Regions from separate parts of the Homo sapiens genome. Here region 2 is linked to region 1. Evidence: fine-mapped expression QTL. A gene starts in region 1. The other region holds a variant in brackets. All regions are shown on one strand. Distances are from middle to middle.

Evidence for each region. PIP is the estimated chance that this variant, and not a neighbour inherited with it, causes the effect.
Region 2: its variant is the best candidate, but not a certain one, in a credible set for the expression of CPNE2 in sun-exposed skin (GTEx, PIP 0.90).

The regions. Positions count from the first base shown.
Region 1 is chr16:57,090,744-57,094,743 of GRCh38, reverse strand. It overlaps CPNE2 (copine 2), which reads right to left and starts at 2,161. Exons shown (of 16, transcript NM_152727.6): 1 at 1,954-2,161. RefSeq lists silencers at 1,670-2,079, 2,140-2,189, 2,300-2,549, 2,570-2,639.
Region 2 is chr16:57,137,358-57,141,357 of GRCh38, reverse strand. All of the region lies in intron 14 of CPNE2 (copine 2), which reads right to left. Among named protein-coding and RNA genes, the nearest start is that of PSME3IP1, 47 kb to the left of the region's middle. The variant G/A (reference allele first, on the strand shown) is at 1,503.

The DNA of each region.
Region 1 (4,000 bases):
TGAGACAACCCCACAAAGGATCCTGGATGCAGTCACCCACATCAGGCTTCTTAATATTCCCATGGATAATGACAATGACAGTTAACCAGGCACTCACCACGTACCAATAAGTGCTGGCACCCGAGTCCTTGCAATCTAATTTAATCCTACCTTTGCAGAAATACACAATTACCTGAAAAGAATATGAAGGTGTATAGATATAAAAACTGAGGACTGGGAGGAGGACCAGATGGGGTCCAGTACTTACTGTTTTACAGACATAGAAACCGAGGCTCCATTCTCAGCCATCTTCTTCCCTTATGCCCCAGTTTTTAATTCTCATGACATTCCAGAGGGAGTGTCCGTTGGAACACCACCAGAGACACCACACTTGCCACTCATGAAGTGCTCCCTACTTGCAGAACGTCTGCTCCCTGTTCCCCAGTTCCAGCCTCCCAGCCGCCCTACTGTAAGCTGGATCATGTCACAGTTTGCCTCATTTTACAGACAGAAAACCCCCCAAGTCCAAGGGGTGACAAGGCACGCAGACAGGAAGTGACGGCCGCAAAACGAACCCAAGCGTCCACATCCTTCGTCCCTGGTTCTTTCCATGGAGAAACCTGCCTGGGTGACCCCTTCCAATCCAGCTGGCTGGGGCGGTCCTGGAGCTCACCTGGACCTATGCCAGGCGGAATGCCATAAAACCACGCCTTCATGCTGTGTCCATTCTCCAGGAGGCAGGCCCCGGAACATCAGCCCATTTCACAGATGGTGACCCAGAGGGCCACAGGGGGGGAGGGTCTGGGCCAAGTTCCCTGTTGGTCATAGGTGGGGTTCAGACCCAGGTCTCCCAGGCCTCCCCATCAGGGCAGGCTGCAGCTGCCAGGGATTACAATCTGCGCACACCGCCTGTTTCCTGAAAACCATGGGCTCCCTGCAGTCCGTGAAGCTGTGGATGCCCAAGGGGCAGAAAAAGCCCCCCAACCTTTGATGACAGCACACACCTCTAAGGGAGCAAAAAACTAAGGCAGACAAAAAAAAGGGCGTTTTGTCTGGAAGATCATTCTTCCAGACCCCTTGTCCCTTCCCCCAGTACATATGGGGCAGGGGATTCAGATGCAAGATGAACACCCTATTAGCTACCAGAGCCAGCAGCATCTGTGACCTTGGGCAAATCACAGCCCCCTTTGAAGCAGCCCCTTCCCCATAGGAGAGCTTCTTGAACTCGGGGGGACGTGGAGCGAGGCTGGGGGATGGGGTGGGAAGAGCAGGGAAGAGGGTGTAAGACCCCTCTATTTTCAGAGGAGCATCGCTGTGAGAAACGGGGAATAAGAGAGGGCCTTGTTCGCCCGCTCTCTCCATGCCCACCCCCACACCCCCTTTAAACACACAGGTGCCAGACAGCTTTTTCGCAAAAACTAGTTTGCAAACACACTCCGACTTCTGGGAAGCTGCCCAGCTCCACTCCCCCTCTGCGCTCCCAGTACCGGGGCTGGGAGCCGGCCCTCCGGCAGTTGCCTGGGGCAGGGGGTGGGTGTTGAGGGGTGGGAGGAGGGCAGAGGGGAGCGGAGAGGAGCCAGCGCCCGCCGAGAGCCAGGGCGACCTCACGCCTTCAGCAGCTGCGGCAGCGGCGGGTCTCCACCTCCCGTACGCCCTCCAAGCCCCTCGGGGCGGGTGGAAGGGTCCCCAAAGCAGCTGGGCTCGGACCCCCGAGGGCGCCCCCCTCCCCAGGGACCCCGCCCGCCCTTCCCCGCAGTCCGGGAGCCGGCGGGGCGCCCCCGCGTGGCCGGGTCGGAGCTGAGTCACCGAAGCGCCGGAGTCCGGGTTCGCGCTGGCGGCGGGGGCTAGAGCGCCGCAGCCCCCCGAGGCGGAACCCGGGTTCCTTCGGACCCGCAGCTGGATCAAAGAGCCCAGCCCCAAGGCCGAAGTTGGGCACTCACGCCAAGCTGCCCCGCCTGCCCGGGCCCCACTCACCGCAGGTCCCGCGGGCGCCACCGCCCTCACCGCACGGCTGCCGCTGCCCGCGCTCCGAGCCGCCCGGGCATCCCCGGGAGCTGCTCCTGCTCGGCCGGGCCCGCGGGCGCGGGACAGGCTCAGGGCGCTGCCCGCGCGGCCACGGCCCGCTCGCGTGCGCTCCCAGCCGCTCGGGGTCCGGTCCTCCTCCCGGGCCGGGCGGGCGGGCGGCGGCGGCGGCGGCGGCTCGGGCTCCTCCCTCCGGCCGAGGAGGGGAGTGGGGAGGGAAGTGGGAGGCGAGGCGGGAGCTTCCTGGAGGGGCGCGCGCTCTCCCACGGGAGGAGCGGGGGCGCTGTCCCGCCCGCAGTCCGCCGCTCCCAGCCCGCGCCCGGCGCGCCGCGGCACTCGGGGCGCCTGGCACCGAGGGGGCCCGAACGTTCGGGCCGAACGCGAGGGTCCGAAGGTTCCAGGCTGGGACTCAGGTGGCTGAGGATCGGAACAACGCGGCTTCGCGCCCTCCCCAGGCCTGCTTTGCCCGAGCCTCTGGCACCTCCGAGTTCCGAGCGCCGTGCGCTCAGGGCCACCGACGCGGGAACAGAGGGGTGGCCTCAGCCCGGGCCTGCGGGGCCCCAGGGCCGCTTGGACCCCCAGCGCCGATGGGAGCGGCGCTGCGCCCTCGGGGCAACACCCAAGGCTGGGTTCTGGGTTGTATTGGGCAGGATTAGGGCCGCAGTGTTTTCTTCCCTTTTTTTTTTCAATAGCAAAAGAGCTCGGCATTTTCTTGCCGCCAGAGATTGGAAATATGACATATTTCTCTGACACAGACGATAAGATAAAGACGGATCCGAACTGGGCCTGGGTCTACTCATCCGTGCGGAAAATTAGGCGAGTCTTTAAGGCCTTGGAGCCCAGGCCTCCTTTTCCCTAGAAGAGGCACCAATTCTTAGGACACTTGTCTGTCGCTGGGCGCTCAAGCCTTTGGCCACTCCGCGGTATTTAGGTGCTCTCTGGGCAAGTTCACCACCGGGCATCAGAAGGCTGAGCCTCACGTAACCAGATTCTGGGGGGCGGGGCTTTCCCGGGGATCTCAAGGCCATGTCCACAGCCCTTGGCCCTGGGGCTCAAGGACTGGGCAGCTGAGGGTTAATGCCGAGTGCTTCCATTGTGGCTTTTCGATTCCAGGCAGGTGAGGGTTAATGTGGGAGCCTCGCGCGCTGCAGCCTGTGAGCCTCCCTCCACGTCTGAGTCACTGGCACTTTGCAGCCTTACAGGGGCCGAGACTAAACAGCCCCCGGGGCTCTGAGCTTTGTTCTCTGCCTGCCTGTCACCCATCCATCTTTCCTTTCTCCAAGCTCTCTTCACCTTTCTTCCACCGAAGCCAATCAAAGCCCTCTGCCCCGCTCTGGGGCAAACCAACCTATCAACCCAACTCCAGCCCCGCTTCCTCCAGGAAGACTTTCCTGATTGCTCTGGCCTCAGAATCTGTCTCTTGTCTTTCCAGCAGCAGGAGAGCCAGGCACTGGGATGGACAGTGGTGAACCAAAGCAGATAGTCTCTCTCAAGTTGCTCACCTGTGGGGGCCAAGATCAGGACCCAGGCCATCATATCACCATATGAAATGTGCAAAGATTGGAGGTAGGGTGGCACAGAAGACCCAACTCAGCCATGGGAGTCAGCGAGGCTTCCTTTAAGAAACCTGAAGGATGAGATAGTTGGGCCTGTCAAGGAAGATACTAGATCCCTAGCCAAGGAGGCAGAGTACAAAGGCCAGGGGTCACAGCAATTCCACTCCTAGATATCTACCCGGGAGAAATGAAAACATATGGCCACACAAAACATACACAAATGTACGTAGCAGCATTATTCATAATAGCCAAAAAGTGGAAACCACGCAAATGTTCATCCACTGATGAATGGAAAAACAAAATGTGGTATATCCACACAACATAGAATATTATACAGCCATAGAAAGGTACGAATTACTGGCCAGTTGTGGTGGCTCACACCTGTAATCCCAGCACTTTGGGAGGCCAAGGCGGGCGATTACTTGAGGTCGGGAATTCAAGAC
Region 2 (4,000 bases), 47 kb before region 1:
CAAAAGTGGCTGGGATGTCCAGAGGACTAGCACCAGGTGCTTGGGCCTCAAGTCCTTCTGCTTCTTCCCTCTGGGGAGCTCTCCGCAGCTGCTCCCCAGAACACACAAATGCCCTTCCTGGCCTTTCCTGGGGCCCAAACCCCCTCAGACCTGGGTCCAGCAGACACAGACCCACCTCTCCCCAGGACCCTGGTTCCTGCCCAGTCCTGCCCCAGCTCTGCAGGTGCAGCTGTGAAAGGGCCCTGGCGCTAACACTGGGCTGCACGCCCGCTCCCTGCCCCACATTTTTCCCCTTAAACAAACATGCAAGACTTTCTTTTTCTATCCCTTTGAAAGCCTGCTCAGGGTGGACAAGACTGGGTGGGACAATGGCCTGGCACCCGAACAGGAGGGAGTGCAAGGTGAAGCCTGCCTCTTGCTGTGCCCTCTCTAGCCAGTTCTAGCCCAGCAAACCCAGGAATTAAAAAAAAAAAAAAAAAAAAAAAAAAATCCCGGCCGGGTGCCGTGGCTCAGGTCTGTAATCCCAGCACTTTGGGAGGCTGAGGTGGGCAGATCAGTTGAGGTCACAAGTTCAAGACCAGTGCGGCCAACATGGTGAAACTCTGTCTCTACTAAAAATACAAAAATTAGCCCGGCGTGGTGGCAGGTGCTTGTAATCCCAGCTACTCAGGAGGTTGAGTCAGGAGAATTGCTTGAACCCAGGAGGTGAAGATTGCAGTGAGCTGAGACTGTGCCACTGCACTTCAGCCTGGGCAACAGAATGAGACTTTGTCTCAAAAAAAAAATATCCCTCCCAGGCCTTTCCCAGTTACTGCCCATTAAGCCTGCACCCAGGTCCTCACAGCACACTGGGGGTTTACTACGCCCATTTCATAAGAGGAAATGGGTGTGGGTGCAGTGGCTCACACCTGTAATCCCAGCACTTTGGGAGGCTGAGGCGGGCGGATCACCTGAGGACAGGGGTTTGAGACAGGCCTGGCCAACATGGTGGAACCCTATCTCTACTAAAAATACAAAAAATTAACCAGGCGTGGTGGTGGGCACCTGTAATCCCAGCTACTTGGGATGCTGAGACAGGAGAATCGCTTGAACCCAGGAGGCGGAGGTTGCAGTGAGCCAAGATTGCACCATTGCACTCCAGCCTGGGCAACAAGAGTGAAACTCTGTCTCAAAAAACAAAAAGAGGAAATGGGTTTAGAGCAGGAAACATTCCATTCCATAAGAAGAAACATGCCCCAGGCTCCGGGTTGCCAGGGTCAGGGCCGGGAAGCTCCTTCTGGCACTCTGAGCTCCTTCTGGCCGGGTGCTGCCTCCACGCCCTGCGCTTCCTGTTCCCTCTACCCCGGCCACTCTTCCCTGAGCGCTTTGCTGGCCTGTCCTTCTCCGTCCCTCAGGTCTTTTTGGGTGCCATGTGCTGAGTGATCTTATTTAATCCTAATACTACCTCCTCCTGATTGATCCTATTAGTTTTCCCACTGTACAAATGAGGAAACTAAGGTGAC[G/A]TGACTTGCCCAAGTCACACAGTGAGGAAGGGACAGCGGCAGGATTCAAACCCTGGCACCCGCCACTCCAGGGTACCCATTTTTCCCACAGATTCTCTACTGCCTCCTGAACCATCAGAAGAGGCTCTGCCACTCCCCACTCCTATTGAAACCGCCTTTGCAAAATTATAACTGAGGAAATTATGACAGCGAAAGAAATCAGACCTAACTGACTCCATCTTGCTTCTAACCCTTCAACTGTCCTTGTTCATTCCTGGGTGTAGGCCAAACTAACTTTGGGAAGGGATTCAGTTCACGGTTTGACTCTGAAACAAACTGATAACAGCCCATTCCCAAAAAGACCCTCTTCTTGCCTGGGGTCCAGTATGTCTTTGCAGGACTAACAAATCAGCTACAGATTGGAAATTACAGTTTAGGAGTCATGCAGCCTCTGGCTCCAAGAGTCTGAACCTCCCCAAATTGGGGATGTCACTACTGTGAAACCTAAGATCAGTGCTTGAGATATTTTGCAGACCCTGCACTCCATGGATCAGCTGTCACCACCCAGACTGGTAATCTGGCTCAGTCAGTTCTGCCATTGCACCCAGGAACAGAAGACAGCAAGAAAAACTCACTTCAGACAGCAAGAAAAACTCACTTCGACCCCCTATGATTCCATCTCCAGCCTGACCAATCAGCACTCCCCACTTTCCAAGCTTCTACTCGCCAAATTATCTTTAAAAACTCTGATCCCCAAATGCTCGGGGAGACTGATTTGAGAAATAATAAAAGTCCGGTTTCCTGCACAACCGGCTCTCTGTGAATTACTCTTTCTCCATTGCAGTTCCCCTGTCTTGATAAATCATTCTTTCTAGGCAGCAGGCAAGGTGAACCCACTGGGCAGTTGCACTATCTTTCCCACCACCTCCCGGAAGTCAACTGCCACCTCCCTGGTGACCAGGTGCCTCCCTCCCTTGGCTGGTCCCAATGGTCCCCTTAGGCATGGGACCAGGTCCCTTTCCCTGGGGGAGGAGGCTCTGACTGAGCTTGTACAACTGACATCCCTCAGCCAGTGCTGACTTCATCCATTCACAGAGCACGATGAGCCTGCACAGCCCAGGCACTGGACCAGGCACGGAGAGAAGGATGTGAACTAGACATTGCCGACCATCATCAGGGTCAGCCAGGAACAGGCAGAGAAGGCAAGAGATCTGCTTCATATAGTGGTCAGGGAAGGCTGCTTGGGGGAGGAGGCCCTGAGGGAGGGCCTTGCAGAGTCCAGGAAGGACCTGCGGGGGAACAGCTAGGAGTGCTCGAGGAACACACGGGGGGTTAGGTGGCAGAATCATCCTAAGAGAAGGAAAGGGCTGTGCAGTCAGTGATCGGGTCGGTAAGGAAGGCAGAGGCTGGCCTCAGGGGATCCAATCTGATGGCGAAGGGTTTTTGGCAGGGCAGCGGCTGGATCTGACCCTCCAGTGGGGGAAACAAATGGTAGCTTGTGGACTGGTGGTGTGAGGAGTGGTGAAGGCAGCTGCAGGGTCCACTGAGAGACCTGTGGCCATGGGGAAGTGGGTGAATTTGGGATATTTTAGAGTCTAGTGAAATGAACACTCTAGAAGTGACTTCAGCAACCCTCTTCTTTCAATGGAGGTGGAAGATGAGAAAGGGGTGGGGGCTGGCCGAGGTCTCCCAGGAGGTAGTGGCCAGAAAGGAATTGGAGTCAAGTCTCCTCAACCCAGACCAGCATCTGGGCTGGGTGCCTGATTCCCCGTCACGGCGCTGGAGCGTGAGGAGCAGGGCTGAGTCAGGGGCTGAGAAGTCCTATGCATAGGGCATAGGTCAGTCAGGTCCCCAAGGTCAGGAGAAGGCAGAAGGGACATCAGATAACTGCCCTTAGGGCAGGGGGAGAAGACCTCTCAACTCATACTGCAGAGAGAGGCAAGGGCAGGTCATGGTGGAAATGGGGAGGTGGGCAAGGTGACCTTTGGTGACCCCACCACTGGCATCAGACCCTGCCAGTAGGGCCTGCCTGGGAGCCAGCCTGCAGCTGGGGGCGGGAGAAGGGAAGGGAGACCACGGTTGCAGATGCCTGGGATGGCTGCTTACCATATATTCCAGATGCCACGCAGCTACTTTGGCAGCCTCAGCCGGGCCAGTGAGGCTCTAGGCTTGTTGCTGAGTGTAGGGCCAGGGCCAGACAGTTCAGCAGCCCTCAGTGTAAGGCAGGGGCAGCTCTGATTGGAACTAGGTGGCTCAGAAGGGTCAGCGTTAGGGCCTCAGGGATCACTGCCTCCAGTTTTCCATCTTGTTACTCTTGTGGGAATAACCAGTACCTCGCCCTGGGGAGACATCTCCCGTTGATCACAGCCCTGCTTCCTGCTCAGCACGAATGGATTTGCTTTCTCCAGTCTGTGCTCCAGGAAGCCAGGACCAATCAAGTTGAGCTTGACTCAACTTTTACAATACGTGAAGGTAAAGCAAGGCCCAGAGGTGTCCACTAGGATTTAAAGCAAAGAGAA